6 linked regions of the Homo sapiens genome follow. The protein of the gene in region 1 purifies or fractionates together with the protein of each later gene. This does not show direct contact. Each region holds a gene or a part of one and is shown on either strand. Other genes may lie near its edges.

Evidence for each region.
Region 2: the proteins of JADE2 (region 1) and KAT6A purify together in Homo sapiens (affinity purification with mass spectrometry, with the first as the bait; one large-scale study listed by BioGRID). This does not show direct contact.
Region 3: the proteins of JADE2 (region 1) and LRPAP1 purify together in Homo sapiens (affinity purification with mass spectrometry; one large-scale study listed by BioGRID and IntAct). This does not show direct contact.
Region 4: the proteins of JADE2 (region 1) and MYO5C purify together in Homo sapiens (affinity purification with mass spectrometry; 3 studies listed by BioGRID and IntAct, with this or other methods). This does not show direct contact.
Region 5: the proteins of JADE2 (region 1) and CCDC88A purify together in Homo sapiens (affinity purification with mass spectrometry; 3 studies listed by BioGRID and IntAct, with this or other methods). This does not show direct contact.
Region 6: the proteins of JADE2 (region 1) and KAT6B purify together in Homo sapiens (affinity purification with mass spectrometry, with the first as the bait; one large-scale study listed by BioGRID). This does not show direct contact.

Annotation. Positions count from the first base shown.
Region 1 is NC_000005.10:134,563,670-134,567,169, reverse strand, and holds part of JADE2 (E3 ubiquitin-protein ligase Jade-2), read right to left. Parts: intron 2,677-3,500; coding exon 2,560-2,676; intron 1,055-2,559; coding exon 590-1,054; intron 1-589. UniProt on the Homo sapiens protein: Scaffold subunit of some HBO1 complexes, which have a histone H4 acetyltransferase activity. Acts as an E3 ubiquitin-protein ligase mediating the ubiquitination and subsequent proteasomal degradation of target protein histone demethylase KDM1A.
Region 2 is NC_000008.11:41,971,988-41,975,487, reverse strand, and holds part of KAT6A (histone acetyltransferase KAT6A), read left to right. Parts: intron 1-665; coding exon 666-784; intron 785-3,500. UniProt on the Homo sapiens protein: Histone acetyltransferase that acetylates lysine residues in histone H3 and histone H4 (in vitro). Component of the MOZ/MORF complex which has a histone H3 acetyltransferase activity. May act as a transcriptional coactivator for RUNX1 and RUNX2.
Region 3 is NC_000004.12:3,515,423-3,518,922, reverse strand, and holds part of LRPAP1 (alpha-2-macroglobulin receptor-associated protein precursor), read left to right. Parts: coding exon 1-52; intron 53-730; coding exon 731-889; intron 890-2,724; coding exon 2,725-2,807; intron 2,808-3,500. UniProt on the Homo sapiens protein: Molecular chaperone for LDL receptor-related proteins that may regulate their ligand binding activity along the secretory pathway.
Region 4 is NC_000015.10:52,222,805-52,226,304, reverse strand, and holds part of MYO5C (unconventional myosin-Vc), read left to right. Parts: intron 1-746; exon of another isoform or gene 747-772; coding exon 773-866; exon of another isoform or gene 867-1,096; intron 1,097-1,166; coding exon 1,167-1,230; intron 1,231-1,323; coding exon 1,324-1,404; intron 1,405-2,580; coding exon 2,581-2,761; intron 2,762-3,500. UniProt on the Homo sapiens protein: May be involved in transferrin trafficking. Likely to power actin-based membrane trafficking in many physiologically crucial tissues.
Region 5 is NC_000002.12:55,287,342-55,290,856, forward strand, and holds the end of CCDC88A (girdin), read right to left. Parts: 3' UTR 501-3,515; downstream 1-500. UniProt on the Homo sapiens protein: Bifunctional modulator of guanine nucleotide-binding proteins (G proteins). Acts as a non-receptor guanine nucleotide exchange factor which binds to and activates guanine nucleotide-binding protein G(i) alpha subunits.
Region 6 is NC_000010.11:74,825,396-74,829,399, forward strand, and holds the start of KAT6B (histone acetyltransferase KAT6B), read left to right. Parts: upstream 1-1,204; 5' UTR 1,205-1,390; intron 1,391-4,004. UniProt on the Homo sapiens protein: Histone acetyltransferase which may be involved in both positive and negative regulation of transcription. Required for RUNX2-dependent transcriptional activation. May be involved in cerebral cortex development.

The sequences.
Region 1 (3,500 bases):
GTTCCTTGAGTCCACCCTGTCTCCTTCGTGCCTCTGTTCTGTTTGCCCAGCACCCCACGGAGCCGCGTTTACCCATCTACCCTGCCCTGGCCCGGCACGTGCCTGTTTGGCTGCTCCTGGCTCTTGATGCCCCTGGCTTTCAGCATGGGTTACGGGGACAGCTTGGGAAGCTCCAGTTCCTCCTCTGCCTCAGATTCTCAATGCAAGCTCATGTGTTAGGACCAGGCGGGGCCCACAGAGGCAAGCAAGTGCCAGAAGCCTAGGTCCTCGCCCTAGCTCTGGTGCTCTCAGCCTCATGACCTTGGCAGGGCCCCCACCATTCACCAGGCCTGTGACAGGGCTAGGACAAGAGGGACTCGGAGACTCAAGAACTGGACTCTTCTCTGTTCTGTAAAGTGTCAGTCACCCCCATACTCTTTGGGACCTGAAAGCCCTCAGCCCCTTGGCAGGCTCCTGCAGCAGGGCCGGTCCACCAGAGCTCACAGTTTGAGTCCTGGTGAGTCCTAGCTGCTCCAGGGCAGTGAGTGTGGCATGGAAAGGACTCCTGGACCCACCAGGCAGGGGGTGGGCAGGCGGCATGGGGACTCACCCTCTCTAGGTCCTGCCGCAGATGGGTGAAGAGCTTCAGGCGGCGGTAGAGGACGTCCTGCTCCTGCTGGGCCAGGTTGTCCACCTCGTCGGTCTTGGGGGTCAGCAGCGGCTGGTTGGCATTGGCTTTCCTCTTCAGCTTCCAGTACTGGTAGATGAAGTCGACCAGTGCCTCAGCCAGGTCCAGCCGCTCAGCCACCTCAGCCGGCTCCACCAGCTCGTAGAAGTCCTCCTCTAGCTGCTGCAGCCGCTGCTTGCGCAGGGTCACCTTTTCCAGGTCCTCGCCAGCCTGGCTGGGTTCCGTGGGCTCAGATGTGGGCTCATTACGTGGGCCCCCGTCACTGTGCTCCTGGCAGAATGACTTGAACTTGACCTCATCGTTGTCTGCTAATATAGTCCGCATTTCCAGGCCGTGGTCAAAGGCGCATGTGACATGGAACGCTGTGACGCAGGAAGGCATGGAACACTGAGGGGAAAGGAGGGGCAGGATCAGACATGGAGGGAGCCTGGTGGGAGGGGAGAAGACAGAGGGGCTTCCCCCAGGGCTCTACTGAGAATGCGCAATGCTGGAGAGAACCTAAACAGAATGGCATGGGCTCCCAACCTCCTGTGCAGGATGGGAGTTACGGCAGGGGAGGAGGAGGAGCTCTGGGGTGCCTGGAAAGGTAACCCATTCAACACCACATGCTTTGGGGAAGTCAATCAGAAGACGGTTGAGAAACACCTCTGGGGACAAGCTGCATTTTTTTTTTTTTGAGACAGAGTCTCACTCTGTTGCTAGGCTGGAGTGCAGTGGTTCCATCTCACCGCAACCTCCGCTTCCCAGGTTCAAGCGATTCTCCTGCCTCAGCCTCCCAAGTAGCTAGGGCTACAGGCATGCACCACCTAGTTTTTGTATTTTTAGAGATGAGGTTTCGCCATGTTGGCCAGGCTGGTCTCGAACTCCTGACCTCAGGTGATCCACCTGCCTCGGCCTCCCAAAGTGCTGGGATTACAGGCGTGAGCCACCGTGCCTGGCCTCAAGCTGCATTTTTGTGTGGGCAAAATGACTTTGGCATCACAGAGCATCAAGAGAAAGGCTGATGATGGGTCACTGGCTCATCTAAGATGGGGACTGTGGTCCCCTTTTTGTCCTCTGGGAAGAGGGGCTGGACTTAGTCCCCTTCCCTCTCCTTTCATCCAGACAGCTTGAGGCCTGACCCTCTCTCTTAGCCTTGGATGATGATAACTGTGTCAGCAATCACGCACCCAACTATTATGACTGCTGATGCTGCACTCACAAATCCTTTTGAAGGTCCGTGGATGGGTGAAGGCACAACTAACGTTTACAATGACAACTCTGTTCCTAAAAGATGAGGGGGACAAAGGATGACTCCCCCCTGCACTCCCAAACTATAGACCTGAGGCATCAACATCCCTTGGGAGCTTGTTAGAAATGCAAGTTCTCAGCTTCACTCCAGACCTACTGAGTCAGAGCCTCTCAGGAGTAGGCCCAGCAGTCTATGTTTACCAAGCCCTCCAGGTAATTCTGACGCATGCTAGACTTTGGGAATAGGCTTTGCTAAAGACAGACTGGTACAGCCCTTCCAGTGTCAGGACAGTCTATTAGCTTAGCTAGATGAGAAGTTTGATTCCTAACCCCTAACGCGTCAAATTCAATGTCAGAAGTGAGGCTAATGTATTCATCAAGCCCCAAGACACTTGCTTTCAGGGAAAGCCAGAGTTCTCAGCACTCCAATGGGGTGGTGAGCCTTGGTTCCCCGGGTCTGTTCCCACTCCCTAGAAGACCAGGGGATGGAGAAATGCTCCCCAACAGGTGCGATTCTGACTCTGGCCCCAGTCCCACACCCCTCTGGGGCCCATCAGTCTGCAGCCCCATGGAGGGGAGAAGGTGGTGGCAGCTGCTGTCTGAGGCCCCAAGCATGCCTCTCAGCCAGCTCCTGGCAGCAGGAGGTGAAGTAGGCCACATACCTGGATGCAGGTGCCTGTGCATTCCTTGCAGAGGCTGCAGGACAGAGCCCAGCGGCTGGCTGGGATATGCGAGATCTTGGTGATGGGCTCCATCTTCTCTGGGCAGCCGATGCTGACCTGGGCAGGACACAGGGGGCTGCATCATTCCTCTCATCCCCAGCCTGCCTCCAGGGATCTCCAAAATGGGGGTTTGTCTGCTGAAACTAGGTGGTGGGCAGACAGGGCAGTGGCTGAGCCCCTGAATCCCAAGTCCCTCCTGACACCAAACAAGCATGGCTCAAAGGCCGGAATTCCTCCTCACTCTCCCAAGCTCACCACTGGATGAGTGTGTTAGTGTGTGCTCATCTGAGACTAATCTTAAATTGTCTGTGAATGTGTGAGTGTGCCGTCAGTGTGTGTAGTTGACTGTGTGTATGTGCTTAAGACTGCGTGGGCCTTGACAGACAGGTGCTTTGGTGTGCGCATAGGTACATGCAAGATCCTCCTTCTTTCTGCACTCAGGCCTTTGTTAATAACATCTTCAGAGTTCTTGTTACGATTTGTATTTGTATTACTTATTTTTCTAGGCACCAAGAAAAGCCTCATTGTGGGATCTCCTCTTGAAGGTCTTTAGGGCTCTCCTGGGGATATGCCTTTGCTGAGCCCTTCCTATGGGGACAGCCCTACAACTATGCCCAAGTCTACTGGGCAGAGACCACCCCACAGCCCAGAGGCAGGGCACATTTGTCTCCCCATTGCTAATGCCTGAGGATGGAAAAAGCAATTCTCTCCAAAGGTCCTGAGCCAAAGGGTCTTCATGATGGAGTCCCTGTTGGTTCTGTCTCTGCCATGCCCAGCCCAGGGTACACTCAGAGGTGGTCCCAGTCTTCAACATGCTGATCTGCAAGCAAGTGCCTACTGCTGACACAAACAACTGTTATCACAGAAGCCCGCATTGTGGG
Region 2 (3,500 bases), on another chromosome or scaffold:
ATAAAGAGAGCAAATGAGCCCAACAGCAGTGTCATCTTCAAATGCAAAGGATAATGATCTTCATAAGTCCCAAATACTCTCTTCACTAGTTTTTTGCCAACTTGAGGAAGTTCCATCATTTAGTAGATAATTATCATACGTTTTCATATTTACCCAGATGATTATCATCTGGGTAAATAGAGTTTGTGCTTTAAAAGGACAGTGTTTTAAAGTTTGTGCTTTAACTTTAAAAGGGCACCCAGAATGTGATGGGAGTTAGTACTGCTGACATCAGTTAAGGTAGCTACTCAAGAGGTTTTTTTGAACGTTGATGCATTAAACCTATACTAAAAGTGTCAAATTTATACTATTTCAAAATGAAATTTATATTCCTTATATCATTTTTCTGTCTGCCTTTCTGTGTATTAAAATGTAATCTTTAATGAAGTTTAAATTTAGTTATATAATATTTTTAGGAAGCTTTAAGACAATTCAGGATTTCCACTATAAGGCAGATTTAATACATAAATATTATTTATTGAGTAGCATTCTTCTAAGAGTCAGTTTAATGCTATATTCTTCGTTATATATTAAGTTCTTCAAATTGAAATAAAGACCTGAAATTTTTTCTAGTTCATGTATTAATCTGGGGACAGTTAACATGTGAGCTCTTTTTTTATATGTAGACAATCAGGATGGCTGGGATGGCAAACAAGAAAATGAGGAGCGACTTTTTGGGAGCCAGGAAATCATGACTGAGAAAGATATGGAATTATTTCGTGATATCCAAGAACAAGCACTGCAGGTAAAGTTGGATATTCAGGTTAGACAATCAAGCAACTTGTTCATGGCTGAGAAACAGCAGATTAATTACATTGTGGGTTAAGCAGTAACAGCAGTTTGCCTAATCTCAGAATAGTTGTGGTTTGTGTGTATATGTAGTTCTGCTGTTTATAATATTCCTTTCAAACCCATGATAACTGCTTTGGTTTTGCAGATAAGCACATGGCTTTGACTATCAATATTAAATAAGCTTGGTTTATTTTTTGTCTTACTGTATGAAGAAGAATTTGGGATTTGACCAAAAACAAACAAAAAACAAGCTTCTCATGAGTGATAAAACACCTATATTTATTAATTCAAGAAGTATTTCATGCCTGTAATCCTAGCACTTTGCCAAGGTGGGTGGATTGCTTGAGTCTGGGAGTTTGAGACCAGCTGGGGCAAAATGGCAAAACCCCATCTCAAAAAAAAAATAGAAAAATTAGCCAGGTATGTTGGTGCACACCTGTAGTCACAGCTATTTAGGAGGCTGAGGCAGGAGAATTGCTTGAGCTGGGGAAATGGAGGTTGCAGTGACCTGAGATCATGCCACTGTACTCCAGCCTGGGTGACAGAGTGAGACCCTGTCTTCCAAAAAAAAAAAAATTGCAATTCTTTGTGACACATGGCAAGATCGTAAATATATAGACAGAGTCTATGTGCCACATGCTGGAGATGCCAGTGAATGACTGAATTCTTTCCCTGAACTATAGGAGAGATTTGTGAATAAGTAATGTCATTAATATGAAAAGTTCAATTATAGAATACTTGATGTTTTGGGAGAATAGGGAAGCCAGCTTCTACTTCTGCCTGGGGAGGTCAGAGGAGGATTCATTGAGGGGCCTTAAAGGATATGTAGGAGTTGTACATATCCCTTAAAGGGATATGTAGGGAGTTGGTTCTTATATAATCAGAAGGAACAGAAGTGAAGGTGGAATAGACTTGAAGATAGGGGAAAACATGCTTAATTGTGGGAATTAAAATGGCTCAGGATAAAGAATATAGGGTGTGGAGAATGGCAGGAGGTGAGGTTGGAAAAGTGCAGGGGCTAGATCATAAAGGCTCTTCCAGATTATGTTCATTTATTTTTTGTCTTTTCCTTCTTTGCCACCAACAAATGTACCATGTAAGCCAAGTTCTCTTTTATCTTGAAAAGAAGAATTTCTAGGCTGGGCACGGTGGCTCACCCCTGTAATCCCAGCACATTGGGAGGCCGAGGCGGGTGGATCACTTGAGGTCAGGAATTCGAGACCAGCCTGGCCAGCATGGTGAAACCCCGTCTCTACTAAAAATACAAAAATTAGCCGGTGGCACACGCCTGTGGTCCCAGCTACTCGGGAGGCTGAGGCAGAAGAATCACTTGAATCCGGGAGGTGGAGGTTGCAGTGAGCCGAGATCGTGCCACACCACTCCAGCCTGGGCAACAGAGTGAGACTCCATCTCAAAAAAAAAAAAAAATTCTAAGGCTGATGCCGAGGGTTCTAGGGAAAACTCTTCATATTAAGAGACCCAGTGGTGGTGAATAGACTGTTGATGTCGGTCATTATGTGAGTACTTTTGGAAAAATAAAACAGCAGTACAAATACTCAGCACGCATTTACTCAGCATTCTGCTGTATTATGATTTAACAAAATATTGGCTTTGATTCAGGTGGATCTGGGTTCAAGTCTTGATCTGTCATTTACTAACTTCTCCTTTGGGCAGGTTGCCCTCAAAGCTTGTTTCCTTTCATGCTAGTGAGTTATTATAGGTACTCTAGTAGAAATCTACATGGACTTCAGTGGGAACTGAAAGGAGGCAGTAGTTATGTTCTTCCTGACTGAAAGAATTTTTTTTTCTCCTCCCGAGTAAGTTGCAGACATAATGTGTTAATATCCCTTTACTCCTAATTTTTTGTGTGTATTTCCTAAAAACAGAAATGTTCTCATACATGACCATGGTCCAATCATCAAATCAGGAATTTAACACAAATTAAGTACTATTATCTAATTTAGTTGTCACGTCTCTCTAGTCTCCTTCCAATTGGGAACAGTTCCTCAGTCTTTATCTTTCATGACCTTGACAGTTTTGAAGTGCACAGGTCATTTATAGAATGTCATCACTTTGAGCTTGTTTTATTTTTCATGATTAGAAAATTCCACAGGTGTGCTGTGTCCTCCTCAGTGTGTCACATCAGAAGGCATGTAATATCCAAGTTCTCATCACAAGTGCTGCTAACAGTGACCACCTGGTTTAGGTGGTATCCATGTTTCTTCTCTAACATTGCTTTCTACCTATAATTAAGTATCTTGGGGGGACATACTTTGAGACAGAAATGCAGATAACCTGTTTTTCATCAAACTTTTATCTACCACATTTAGCATCCAGAGATGATTTTTGCCTGAATCATTTACTTTGTTGGTGGCCAAACATTATTTTCTAATTCTATCATTTCTTTGCCATTTATTAATTGGCATTCTATTGTAAGGAGAAGCTTTTTCTTCTTCCTATTTGTTTATTCATTTTGTTTAAACTCATAGATTATTTTATGGTTATAATCCATTGCTATTAGTATTTATTTTGATGCTTAAATTGTTCCAAATTTAGGCAGAGGGGAACTCCTTTCTAGAAGCTCCTCTGTCCTTTTAACACATCATCATCATTTTTATTTACTTCTGGCCACAGCAAGATGTTCTAGGCTCTTACTGTTGTAGCCATAG
Region 3 (3,500 bases), on another chromosome or scaffold:
GAGAAAGTTCACGAGTACAACGTCCTGCTGGAGACCCTGAGCAGGACCGAAGGTGCCCCCCGCCCCCACCCCCTCCTGCCCTCTGCCCCACCCCCTCCTGCCCCCCACCCCTCCTGCACCTGAGGCTCGTTGTGCTCAGTGGGCAGCCTCAGCTCCCCTCAGGAACACAGCAGGGGCAGGGAGGCGGCACCAGACGCCCTCCCAGGGTTCCACCGGACTTGTGAGTGGGGAGGTTGCTGTGCAGGCAGGCTCTGGGAGTCGCCTGCCTGCATTGGATGAACCAAGTCTCACCGGCGCCTGCCCCCACTATGGGCACAGCTGCTGCCTTTGTCAGACCTGAGCTTCGCTGATGGGTCCTTCATTCTGGACTCGTGACCCTCCCCAAATGTGTGACTTTCCCACCCCACAAAGCTGGAGTAAAATGGAGGGTGACCCAGCAGAGAGGGGGCAGGGCAGGGGTCCAGAGTCAGCCCCCAGGGGACCTGGTGCCCCAGCTGTCACCGCCAGGCGCCACTTGGTGCGCGTGTCCCGGCGTCTCGCCTGTCTCGCCTGGAAAGGAAGCTGTGCCAACGGTCGTTTCTGCGGCGCTGCAGGACCGCGGAAGGGGGACATTTTCAGCCCAGAAATGAGAGCGAGTTTGAGCTCCCCAGCAGTGGGCGTTCTAGACAGTGGTCTGGGCAGGCAGTGCGAGGACTCCCAGCCTCATGGCGTCCTGCCTTCGGTTTTACAGAAATCCACGAGAACGTCATTAGCCCCTCGGACCTGAGCGACATCAAGGGCAGCGTCCTGCACAGCAGGCACACGGAGCTGAAGGAGAAGCTGCGCAGCATCAACCAGGGCCTGGACCGCCTGCGCAGGGTCAGCCACCAGGGCTACAGCACTGAGGCTGGTGAGTGCCCGCCCGGGACTGTTGGTTCCCGAGGGTGGGGCCGTCTCTGGTTGTGTTTTGGGGACAAGCAGGCAGGTGCTTGTAGCGACGGGAACCTGGGCCTGTGGACGCAGCGGAGACCCTCGGCGCGCTCAGTCTACCCACGGGTGGTCACAGGCCTCGCTCCCAGGAGCTGCTCCGTGAAGGTCACTCGCCGTCCCCAGCCTTGTACCTGGAGACTAGCAGAGGGCAGTGGCGGCAGCGGGCCTGGGAGCAGCCCTTCCCAGCGTCTCCCCAGCCTCAGCAGCACGGCCCCTCCCGTGCTGCTGTTGGCCAAGAACAGAGACCACTCGTCAAACATAGCTCCGTCTCCATCTCATGCCACCCACACCGTCCATCAGTCCCCCTCAGCCCGGCAGGGGCAGGACGCCCGCTGAGGCCACAGAGCTTGTGGCTCCGTCTCAGCAGCTCATCTCCCTCCACTGCAGGCCCTCAGTGGCCAGGCTCTGCACCACTGCTTCTTGCCCCGTACCCGGGCCAGAGCCTTGTGCAGGGTGTACCAGAAGCCTGCTGGCCTCACTCACGCAGCTTCCGATTCTGTACCTCATCCTCCACGTGCACACTGAGCACCAGCTGCACGCCAGGCACTGCTCTAGGCTCGAGGAGACAGCAGCCGCCAGGAGATGGCATCTGTGCCCTCATGGTGATAAGACAGCAGGGCTGGTCTCTGTCCCCGGTGCCAGGCAGAGCCACCGCCTCGTCTCCAGGATGGTCTGCCCAGAGGCAGCCTCCAGCACAGCAGTCAAATGTGTCCACGCGGGCCCAGGTCCCCTTGGGTGGCTGTGCTGCTGTCACCTGAGTGCCCTTGGGCAAGACCCCTCACCACCCACCCCCAAACCCAGGCTCCCTTAGCCTGACCTGGTGCTGGTGACTGTCAGCCGTAGGCTTTTGGCCGTAGTGCTGGGGGCTGGACCACCTTGTAGGCCTGCGATGCAGTTTGCTGAGTTCCTGTGCTGGAGAGACCCGGATGAGCCTGGCTATAGTCCATGCAGGAAAGGGCGACTCAGCCCCACACACTTCTCTTCCCACCTCGGGCTGTCCCCAAGGCAGTTGTGTCCAGCGGCTCCTGCAGTTCTCTTGCGGGTCTGCCTGGGCCTTCCAGCAAGCCCCACCAGCCCAGGGTCCTCGGGGTCCTGAGCAGGAAGGGGTCAGCAGAGGAGGGAGCAGGGGCCACTGTTGCGGGGCTCCATGGGCAGGCGGCTCTGGACTACTCACTCCTGGTTGGAGAGTGGTGACAGCCCCGGAGTCTCTCACTGCGTCCCTTCGTGAGCACCAGGGTCCAGGAGCCGTCTTGGTTTGTTTGGCTCCTCCCAGGAGCCCGAATGTTTGACTTTCACGAGCACAACATCCTGCTGGAGACCCTGAGCAGGACCGAAGGGAAACGGCCTGTGCCTGCGTCTGGACCTGGCTGAACTTGCAGGTGCCCCCACCCGAGGTCCTGGCAGCCTCTGCACACAGGCCACGTCCATCCTCTGCCTCCTGCTTCAGAGGCAGCCAGGGCGGGCTGTGGCGCTTCCCAGGCTCTGATGGAGGCAGGTGTTTCTGGACACAAAGGAGAAGCAGTTGTTTGGCCAAGGGGACAGAGAAGCCACATTTCAGCGAGGTCATGTGAGCTACTGAGCAGATGCCCTCTGTGCCCCATAAGACTTTGAGTGCACGCACCCGTGTTTCACACACATGCAGGTCGCGCCTGCAAACCCTCATAGGCTCCACGCACACTCAGCGTGGTTGCCGCGGGGCTGGCTGTGGTGTGCACCCCGGGTGCTGCTGAGGCCACTCTTGCTCCTCCCCTGCAGAGTTCGAGGAGCCCAGGGTGATTGACCTGTGGGACCTGGCGCAGTCCGCCAACCTCACGGACAAGGAGCTGGAGGCGTTCCGGGTAAGGAAACACGGCCCTCTCCTTCTAGCTCTCTCCTGTGGTGAAGATTCTCTTGCAGTTTCCGGGTAAGGAAATGCAGCCCTCTCCTCCAAGCTCTCTCTCTCAAGATTCTCGCAGTTTCTTCCTTAACCACTCGGTGAACCTGCTTGCGTTTTCCTTCTCATCTGCGTGGGAACTCGTGTTTCAGGGGCGGGGCCAGGCTCTGGAGGGAGGGGCTTTGGTTCTTTTGTCCGTGTTCACGTCTGAGCGTGGCCTTGGTGCGGGTCCTGTGGATGGTCAACAGTTGGTCGGGACCCAGCCACAGCCTGGGGGGAGGGGACCAAGGACACTACCGGGATCGTTTAGGGGTGTCACCACTTCCTGAGATGGAGGCCCAGGGAGGGAAGGAGACCACCTCAGGTGGCAGGGGCTCCTGGGGCGTGTGGAGTGCCAGATCATTCTGAGGGTGGAGAATTCATCAGCTCGGTGAGCACCCAGCAGGGCTGTGAGGAGTGGGGAGTCCATCGGGGGTCCTGGGTGGGCAGCCTTGAGTATGGTATCCGGCCATGAGTTCACCCAGGGTCCCTATAGCTGGTGTCTGTTGGGAGGGAGGTGGGTGTGGTCCTGCCCTCATAGGACTTGGGACTTTCCTGGCCCCAGGAAGGGCCCTTAGCACCTCCCCCAGAAAGGGGTCAGGAGCTTCCCTCTGGGGCT
Region 4 (3,500 bases), on another chromosome or scaffold:
AACTCCCAGACCTCCTGGACTCACCAGTCTCTGCCACTGCTCCACATCTAAGCTGAGCTGAAGCCAAAACCCACAGTTATGAAGGTGGCAACTTTGCCCATGTCCTTGCACTCAATATTTTATTATCCATTAAAAGAGAATTTTAGCCCGTGATTTTACCTTTCTCAGTCTTCCCCCTGTCCCACCCCACCCCAAGCTTATAGTAGGTATTTTTTTTTCTTTATGTAACAGGGAAGTTAATTTTTTTTTTTTTCGAGGTGGAGTTTTGCTCTTGTTCCCCAGGCTGGAGTGCAATGGTGCAGTCTCAGCTCACTAAAACCTCTGCCTCCCGGGTTCAAGCGATTCTCCTGCCTCAGCCTCCCAAGTAGCTAGGATTACAGGCGTCTGCCACCATGCCTGGCTAATTTTTGTATTTTTAGTAGAGATGGGATTTTACCATGTTGGTCAGGCTGGTCTCAAACTCCTGAACTCAGGTGATCCACCTGCCTCAGCCTCCCAAAGTGCTGGGATTACAGGTGTGAGCCACCATGCCTGGCCCAGGGAAGTTAATTCTACTGATACAACCCATTAGATCTGGCATTTTGAGTAGTTAAGCATGCTTCAAGGCCAAGCTGTGTAGGCAGTGATGGTTTAACAAGATTTTAGCTAAGAAAGAAACTGCAGTGAGGATGTCTTGCATAGACACGCAACGCTGTAATTGTGTTCCCTTTGTCTTATATAAAGCATAATCGTTGTTTTTTCTTTACCTGATTCCGTCATTGCTGTGATTCAGACAATCTCTGAGTTCGAAAAAGAGATAGAACTACTTCAGGCACAGAAGATAGATGTGGAGAAACATGTGCAGTCACAAAAACGGGAAATGAGAGGTAATAAAAATATGAGTCTCTTAGTCCATGGGTGCAGACTGAATTTATCATAGCTGTGTCGCTGCTAAGGAAACGTGTCCTTTGGTATGAATTTGGTTGGACATATGGTAGATTGCTTAGTTGATAGGTTGAATAGCTAGTTGGTTGAATACCTGGAAGATTGGTTAGTTGGTTGATTGGATAGCTGGTGAGTTATTTAGCTGGAGACTGTGAAGCTAGAAAACTGGGCCCTGGAAAGGGAATGGGAAAAGATAAATCATCCACAAATGTAATATATACAACTCTGCCTTTCCCTTTCAGAAAAGATGTCAGAGATCACCAAACAACTTCTCGAAAGCTATGACATTGAAGATGTAAGAAGCAGGTAATCATTTTTGCATTATCAAACATTTTAAGACATGTAAACATGTAAAACGTGACAGAGATGATAGATTTTCTTATCTTCCTTATTTTGCAGGCTCTCTGTGGAAGATCTGGAACATTTAAATGAGGATGGAGAACTTTGGTTTGCTTATGAAGGACTAAAGAAAGCAACACGGTTAGAAATTCTCCTCAGGGATCTTCTTTATTTTTCAGAGATAATAAATAGACTATTGGAAAGTCCAAAGTTTACCTTACATAGATTGATACACAAATTCCTTATAGTAGAATGACTGAATAACCACTAGAAATATTTCTCTGAGAAGTAAGTAAGTAGCTTATTCATGAAGAGCAATCTCTTTGTGGGATAAAATGCCTAGTAAAAAACCCCATAACCCATACAGTGAAAACTGATTATCAAATAAGTTAGTTAATGTTGCCAGAAATATGTAGATACATTTAAATTTAAGGCATGTGCTGCATTTATTTAAATTAATAAACTTTATTTTTCACAGCAGTTTTAGGTTCACATCAAAGTTGAGCAGAAATACAGAGAGTTCCCATATATCCCTGCCACCACACACACACAACCTCCCCCACTGTCAACTTCCCAAACCACAGTGATGTGTTTACTATGACTGGTGAACCAACACTGACACGCCACTGTCACCTCAAGTCTATAGTTTACATTAGAGTTCACTCTTGGTGTACATTCTGTAGGTTTTGACAAATGTATAATGACTCGTATCCACAACTGTAGTATCATACAGAACATGTTTTGTTTTGTTTTGTTTCTGAGATGGAGTCTCGCTCTGTTACCCAGGCTGGAGTGCAGTGGCAAGATCTTGGCTCACCGCAACCTCCACCTCCAGGTTTCAAGCGATTTGCGTGCCTCAGCCTCCCAAGTAGCTGGAACTACAGGCATGCGCTACCACACCTGGCTAATTTTTGTATTTTTAGTAGAGACGGGATTTCACCATGTTGTCTAGGCTGGTCTCAAACTCCTGACCTCAAGTGATCCGCCCACCTCGGCCTCCCAAAATCCTGGGATTACAGGTGTGAGCCACTGCGTCTGGCCAGTATTTTTTAAACTATTAAGAGTGTAAAAATATAATAACTTCTAAAATTTTCTTCATTGTTAACTACATATTAACCCCCACATAATGCTTCCTAACTAGCTAGAAGATTTTATAATTAGGCATTCCTGATTCTGTAGCCTGTAACCGTGAGTGCATAAGTAAACTTGATGTACTTCGTGCACGGCTCTTGTTGTGGGTCTTCATAACTGCCTCCCAGCAGTCCATAAAACAGAACAAAGGCCATGTGGTTTATTTCTTGACCCCTCCTTTAATAGTGTTTTGGAGAGCCATTTCCAGTCTCAGAAGGATTGCTATGAAAAGGAGATTGAAGCTTTGAACTTCAAAGTGGTGCATCTCAGTCAAGAAATCAACCACCTGCAGAAGTTATTCAGAGAAGAAAATGACATCAATGAAAGCATCCGTCATGAAGTTACCAGGCTAACATCAGAGAACATGGTATGGTCTCAGCCAGGGGCCCCAGTCGTGGCCATCATACTAGAGTTGTTCTTTGTCAGTGGCGTCAAATTCAGTTTCTTGGCAGTAAAAGAGTGGATATAAATTACTTTTTCCAGAAGTGAAATAACTTGGTCTGGTGATTAAACTATAAAATGACTGCAGACCAGAGAGCACTCTGATACAAGAGTGTGTGTGTTCACCACAGGATGGCTGCAGGCGCTGTGATTGTCTGTGTGTGCGCGTAAGTGTGTATGTTTTAAAGCCTGTATATTTAAATCAAGCCCTAACCCCTTGGAAAGTGACCACAAAATTGAAGGGTAGCTCTTGAGACAGGAGTGTGTCAGAAGGCCAGTCCTGCTCATGCCTGAAATCTCACCTTTTTTTTTTTTTTTTTTGAGATGAAGTCTCACTCTGTTGCCCAGGCTGGAGTGCAATGGCATGATCTCAGCTCACTGCAACCTCCGCCTCCCAGGTTCAAGCAATTCTCCTGCCTCAGCCTCCCGAGTAGCTGGGATTACAGGCGCCCACCATCACGGTCAGCTAATTTTGCATTTTTAGTAGAGACAGGGTTTCACTATGTGGGCAAGGCTAGTCTCGAACTCCTGACCTCGTGATCCGCCTGCCTCAGCCTCCCAAAGTGGCATAAGCCACCGTGCCCGGCCTTCAAATCTCACCTTTTCAAGGGCTTCCTCTTCCATGACGTGCATTCCTAGCCACTGCATTTGTCTCATTCTTTCTT
Region 5 (3,515 bases), on another chromosome or scaffold:
TGTGTTACTAAAAGGCAAAATAAAAGTAATGACTTTATTCTAAGGTTCCTCTTAGTTTTTACATACTCGGTATTCTATCTCTAACACAAAGTAGCCGTTTTAGGTTGCTTTGCATATGAAATGAAGGTACTAATGAATACACAGAAATTAAGTACCTTAGGTATCTGGTCTAATTGCCCTCCCCACCTTATAGTGAAAACAGGCCCAGAAAAACTGACCAGCCCAAGGATGAGGCCAGTTCCTTTGTCTCCCAAAGTCTAAGTGAAAATGGGAGATTCATTTGTGCAATCTATTAGATTACATTTAAACCTATTTTGGGACTGATAAAATTGACAGATGCTCTTTCTCTCCAAACCCCTAATACTTATCACAAAATGATATGACAGAATCAACTAAACAAGGTCATGGGTTATGTCTGACGATAGTTCTCTAGGGAAAATGGAAAGAAATAAAATAACACTTGGCTAAAATGATATCATTTTTAAATGATTACTAACCAGTTGTTACAAAAATCACCTCTTGGTTTTATTTCTTTTTATATTAGTTTGATACGTGAATGTTAGTCCAACTTAATTTTTGAAGGAGAAACAAAATGAAAAATGTTTTTTAAAAAACAAACAGTGGTATCTCTTGTCATGAGTTGGATGCCTGTGACTGACATCAGGTATTGCCAAGTAATAAACATTTTGCCATTCAACTCTAAATCCCTTATTAGCATTAGTTTTAAAGGAAATGTTACAGCTTTTATATTATTTGATTTGGTATTTAATAACAGTTATAAGTACAATGGTAGACACTGAAAAAGAAAACCCTTAATAGAAAAGAAAAAGACAATTTAAAATTAGATTTTGTTGAAGGGTGTTATAAGTGCAACTTTATCCATATGCATTCCTTTTAAGGCATTTTCATTGTCCAAATATCTCAACATGTACATCAAGGTTTATATTATAAAATGGGCTCCTTTTGTATTCATTCAAGACTTAAAGAAAAAATACATCTCAGGACTAAGTGTAGCTGAAAAGAAAAACACAAAAATTCACCACTCACAAAAAGTAACTTAAAATACAAAAGTCATTTAGTATACATTATTACTCCCCATTGTAATTCCAGATTTGGTACAGTATCTTTTTCATTTCCTGACATAAACCATTAAGACAGCACAGGCTGTAGTACTTCATTGTGAGGTGGCTACAACTCTATAATATGCACAGTGATTTTAAAATAGGCTTTTTGCATGCCTTGCATGAAAGGTGCTACATACAAACCTGTTTTGTGAACTCTTTGGTAACCACCAATTTAAAAATTTGGATGAAAGCATTTCCACATGGACAGATCTGAAGCACATTATTGGAGCTCTGAGCCAAAGCTATTACCCTGTATATTGATTCTTCAGTTTCCTTGAGGGGTTAGGTGTTGATTTAGAATACAGCCAGATAATTTAAAGCATGTCAGGCCCCGGTTAGGAAAATGAAAATGGCTCCGATTCGTTTCCAGTTGGCTTTATTATTGTTTGGCAGAAGTTGTTTAGGGGAGAAGAGTGGCTTCCTACAAAGTTTGCTTCTCAAGGTATACTGGAGAAAGTAAAATATTCATGTGGTTACTACTGTCTAGTCGTTTCTTGAAATGGTATGAAAAAAGTGTGATGAATATAATTGAGATTATTCATATTTTTGTAGTCTCAATGTGTTCCCTTGGTTGTCTCTTTAATTGTCCCTTCTCAGGGTCAGCCTACTCAGATTCAGTACTTTACACGTTGTTTTCAGCATTTTCTGCTTGAAGCACTAATGCACTTAACCCAGCATGTTCTGTATTTTAGGATATTAGTGTTCTGGAGAGGTCAAGCTGTAATGTCATTCGCCCTCATTGGGCTACATCACCACCCATTAAATTTCAGCTTTTCAGTAATTGTTCTGGGATGTGTTCTAGTTGTGCAAATTAGATGCTAGCTAATATAAATCTAAGTTACCCACTAACTGTATTTAGCCATAACATAATTTCTATGTTTACTTTTATCCACCTAAAAATGAATGTACATTTTTTGACATGCAATTGTCTCTAGACTGCTCTGATACCTATTACCAATGTGCTACTTGAATCCAGGGAGTTATGAGAGAGAGAGATGTTTCAAAGTCTACGGAAAAGGTTTTAGATATTTCTGTTGTGCATTATTTTTGTATGTTAGTAAGAATCCTTTGTATTTCCATTTACATAGCACCTTTCATCCAAGATTTTCAAAATGATTTAACGTTAACAGCATTTGGTGGTAAAACCTAAGTTACCGGTGGCATTGAAGTACGTAAGTAAGCTCAAGTTCTCTAAGTTCCATTTCAATTTAAACATGCTCTCTTTTTTATTGATGGTCTTTTGGAAATTAGACTGTGAACACAACATTGCTACTGGCCTACGAAAGAGAGAGAGAAAGAGGGAGAGAGAAAGAGAGAGAGAGAGAGAGAGAGAGAGAGACTTTTCTTATGGTTACTGGGTTAGTGATGAAACCCACAACTCATAAACCACACACTATGGAATATGGAATTATTCCAAAAAGTTCTTCAGAGCTGGTAATGAAAGCCTAAGAAGTACACTGTTAAAATTTTAAAAAGTCAGTATGTTTCTCATTTCAGACCTTGAAGATTACTCTGATATTGATGTTAAATAATGAATTTGCATTAATGAGTATCAATGCATTTTTTGATTTCATAAGAAAATAAAACTGTGATATAAAATTGGAACTACTAAAAAAATTGATGTTTCCCTGGGTTAACTAAATCTATTTTTTTGTGCTTCTTCCAAATGTTTAAAGGTAACAAATGCATACAAATATTTCAAAAGTACCAATAACAGTTATCAACTTTAATGTAATATCATAAAGGAGAAAAAAATCATTAATAAATGATAGCCTTAATTATAAATGAGTTTCTGGCAAAATGCAGATCATAGTAACTTATTTACATTATTTTTGCCATAAGAAAACTTCTTAAGCAACAGTCAGCTCTCAAGTTAAAAAAATGCACACGCATACATAACCCAATACCAAAGAAAAGAAATGAGTTAAAGCACAACAGCTTTATCTTGGGAATGCCATTTGCTGAAAAACCATCTTACTAAAAAAAAGTTTCAGAAAAACACTCTTTACCATGGGTTAACTTATGAATGCTTAGTGTTGCTTAATGGGAAATATGGAAAGATTAATATCACTATAAATTTTTTATAACTCCTATTTCATTATGGATTTTTCAGATTTATCTTATAAACTGAATTTCTTTTGCATCAAAATAATTGGCTTTAAGAAAAAAAAAGTATCAACACATGCAGTCTGCTAACCAAATAAGGCTCTGACATGCCAAAACAATTTTCTCTGTATCTTGCTATATAGTACATTCCACAAAATACTACAGCATTTAATTTAGGTTTACACAACTAAATATAAATGGCTAGATTTTGGCTAACACTTAGCAGAAGCATTAAGCAAACATGGATAAATTCATAAAACAAATGATGAAAAAAGCAGATTGTTC
Region 6 (4,004 bases), on another chromosome or scaffold:
CGGGCTGCGCCCCCGGCCAGGCCGGGCGGGCTGGCGGGCGGCGCGGGGGGAGCGGGGCTGGGCGGCGCTGCCTCGGGCTCTGTGCGCTGCAGCCCGGAGCCGAGGAGGAGGAGGCGGAGGAGGAGAAGGAGGCGGCGGCGGTGGGTCCCGGGCGGGGGGAGCGCGGCGCTGCGGACCCGGGCGGCTGGCAAAGGACGAGGCGGAGGCTGAGGAAGGCAGCGGGGAGACCCAGGCTGCAGCAACAAAGGGCAGCGAGCGATTGGCCGGGCTGCAGGCGAGGTTAGCCGGGGACCCGGGTGGCCGGAGGCAGCGGCGAGCGGTGCACGTGCTTGCAGACACGGGCGAGTGTGGAGCCGGGGGGTGCACGCCCGGTGGGTAGGGGCTTGCTCCCCCGAGGCATGGGATGGCGAGGAGGCTGCAGCGACATCGTTCTGCCTGCACCCGGCCTGGGGCTGGCAGGGTAGGGGTGTGTTGGGGGGGGAAGGATGCGAGCCAGGGGGCGGGCGAGTAGTCGCCCGGGACGGGACGGGACGGGAGAGAGGGTGGAGGAGGGGGCGGGATGGAACGCTCCGGGCGGCGCGCCCGTCCGCACACTCCACCGAAGGAGCTGGCGACTGAGAACCTCGAATTTTAACTTCGCGTGCCCGCCCGCGCGCGCCCGCCCGCGCCCACCCCTAAATCCTGCGGCCGCCGCCAGCGATCAGCTCTCACACAAACTTTAGCTGCGGGCTAGGGGGTTTGGGGTTGAGTGGGGGAGGGGAGAGGGAAAAGGCCTCCTGATTGGCGTCGTCTGCAGCCAATAAGGCTACGCTCCTCTGCTGCGAGTAGACCCAATCCTTTCCTAGAGGTGGAGGGGGCGGGTAGGTGGAAGTAGAGGTGGCGCGGTATCTAGGAGAGAGAAAAAGGGCTGGACCAATAGGTGCCCGGAAGAGGCGGACCCAGCGGTCTGTTGATTGGTATTGGCAGTGGACCCTCCCCCGGGGTGGTGCCGGAGGGGGGGATGATGGGTCGAGGGGTGTGTTTATGTGGAAGCGAGATGACCGGCAGGAACCTGCCCCAATGGGCTGCAGAGTGGTTAGTGAGTGGGTGACAGACAGACCCGTAGGCCAACGGGTGGCCTTAAGTGTCTTTGGTCTCCTCCAATGGAGCAGCGGCGGGGCGGGACCGCGACTCGGGTTTAATGAGACTCCATTGGGCTGTAATCAGTGTCATGTCGGATTCATGTCAACGACAACAACAGGGGGACACAAAATGGCGGCGGCTTAGCTCCTACCCCTGGCGGCGGCGGCAGCGGTGGCGGAGGCGACGGCACCTCCTCCAGGCGGCAGCCGCAGTTTCTCAGGCAGCGGCAGCGCCCCCGGCAGGCGCGGTGGCGGTGGCGCGCAGCCAGGTCTGTCACCCACCCCGCGCGTTCCCAGGGGGAGGAGACTGGGCGGGAGGGGGGAACAGACGGGGGGGGATTCAGGGGCTTGCGACGCCCCTCCCACAGGCCTCTGCGCGAGGGTCACCGCGGGGCCGCTCGGGGTCAGGCTGCCCCTGAGCGTGACGGTAGGGGGCGGGGGAAAGGGGAGGAGGGACAGGCCCCGCCCCTCGGCAGGGCTCTAGGGCAAGGGGGCGGGGCTCGAGGGCGGAGGGGGGCGGGGCGGGATCGGGTGGGGGCGGGGTTCGGGGAGTCGGAAGGCGGGGGCTGAGAGGGAATTTCTGAGTGGGAGTGAACTGGTAGGAGCGGTGGGGGGCCGGCGAGGGTGTGAGGAAGACTAGTGAGGGTTGGGTGGGAGGAGAAGCTGAAGGTGTAGAAGCAGGTGCAGAGGGAGAGTTAGGGAGGGATGCAATTTGAGAGAAGTGGAAGGCGGACCGAGGGGTGTGTGAGGGCAGGTGAGATGATACCGAAGGCGAGATTGCAGTTGTCTGGGCGCAGAGTAGGTGGGTTTGGGTGTGGTGGATGTGGAGTAGAGTTGAAGCGGTGCAGAGTGTTGGGTTTGGGGAGGCGTTGAGGGGTTTGGGGAGGCATTGAGGCGCATGTGAGGAGCAGGTACGATTGCAGTGATGGGAAAGAGGTATCTGGGTGGATCGCATGTTGGAATAAGAAGGAGGTTTGCTAGCTTTGGGGTATGAAGTATTTTTTAAAAACGTGGAAGGATGGGATGGTTGTGCTTGGGAGAGTTTCTGAAAGATGATGCTAAGACAGCAGAGCAAACTTAAATATGAAGGAAGGGGAGAGAGGCTGCTTAGAACTTGCAAAATCTGTGGCAGAAAATCTCCTGGGGACAAGGGATTGGTAGGGGTGGGACAAGGCGGCAGGTGTGAAGAAAGTGGGTGGAGCTGTACAGTAATTTTCGGTGAATGTGATTTGGTGGACTGTGCCAGGGGTGAGGATGGGGCAGAGAAAGGTGTTAGTTTGGGAGACAAGTTGTTTGATAGGCTGTATTTATTATTTTTTATAAAAATGAGAAAAGGGTCTCACTATGTTGCCCAGGCTGGTCTCGAACTCCTGGCCTCAAGTGATCTGCCCACCTCTGCCTGACTGATGGGATTACAGACGTGAGCTATGGCGACCCGTGATACGCTGGATTCATTATGTTAAACTTGATCTGGAGTCTTCAAGGGAGTGTCCGGCAGCAGGGTATCCCAGGAAGAGACATGCACCATACCTTGGGATAGGACATTTTGCATAGCTTTGAATTTGCTAGTACTTTGCTGTGGGCAGAGTGCAGGGAGTGGTAGGAGATGACCAGGCAAAGGCAGAGGAGGGGTTAGATTACAAATGGTGTCCTATGCCCCATGAAGGAGTTTAAGCCCTGTAATTGGTAGAAGGTGTTGGGACGTGTTAAAGAGAGTGTTAGACAGAAGTTGTGAAGGGGTAGTGATAAAGAATTACAGATGTGGGAAATAGGAAATGAAGACCAACGAACCAAGTATGTTTGGGGTTGGAGGTACCAAGGAAATTCAGGGTAGAGCATATGAGGGCCCCTCCTATATGGACAGAAGGTGGAAATAGCAAATGGAAATTAGTTGTGTTCGAACAGTCTTAGTTCTATGGGGCCCCAAGAAGGTTTTTTGTGTTTTTTTTTTTTTAAAGTGCATTCTTCCTGTCTTACTTGTATACCCTAGATTTTTTGGCATAGCCTTGAAATAAAACACTCCATTTTTTTCTTACTCATAAGTTCTTTTTTTTTTTTTTTTTTTTTTTGAGACGGAGTCTCAGTCTGTCGCCCAGGCTGGAGTGCAGTGGCGCCATCTCGGCTCACTGCAAGCTCCGCCTCCCGGGTTCACGCCATTGTCCTGCCTCAGCCTCCGGAGTAGCTGGGACTACAGGCGCCTGCCACCACGCCCCGCTAATTTTTTGTATATTTAGTAGAGACGGGGTTTCACCGTGTTAGCCAGGATGGTCTCGAACTCTTGACCTTGTGATCTGCCCGCCTCGGCCTCCCAAAGTGCTGGGATTACAGGCGTGAGCCACCGCGCCCGGCCATTCATAAGTTCTTTACACATTTATCAGAATGAATTTGGACAGTATTTTATGTTTTTAAGAAGGAAAGGATAATGCACATGTTTTTTCTTTTCCGAGAACTTCTACTGAGAGTTAAAGGTTGGAGTGGTGAAGTGATGGTTTAAAAAAAAAAAAAAAGAAAAGAAAAGAGAGAGACAGAGGAAGATTTTAACATTAAAAGAGGAATTTAGGGAATGGCTGATGGTCATGACACGGTCGGCAGAGGAAGTTTTGCTTACTAGCCACACTTAGGCTTCTGAGTAGAGTGGATATTATGTCATTGCTATTATAGCATGTGTTTATTTCACACACTGCTTTTGAAGATTGGGTGGAAACTGTCAGATGTGAGGCATAGCATGAATGAAAGGTAAATAGCATGAGTATTAGAAAGTAGATGAGGAAGTTTAATAATTTTAATGTGCTTCATAAGCTCTCATGGACTTTCACGTATCAATTAGTAAAAGACGTAACTAAGTGATCTGGCTTTCAGTCTCCTAGTTCTCTACAGTGTACC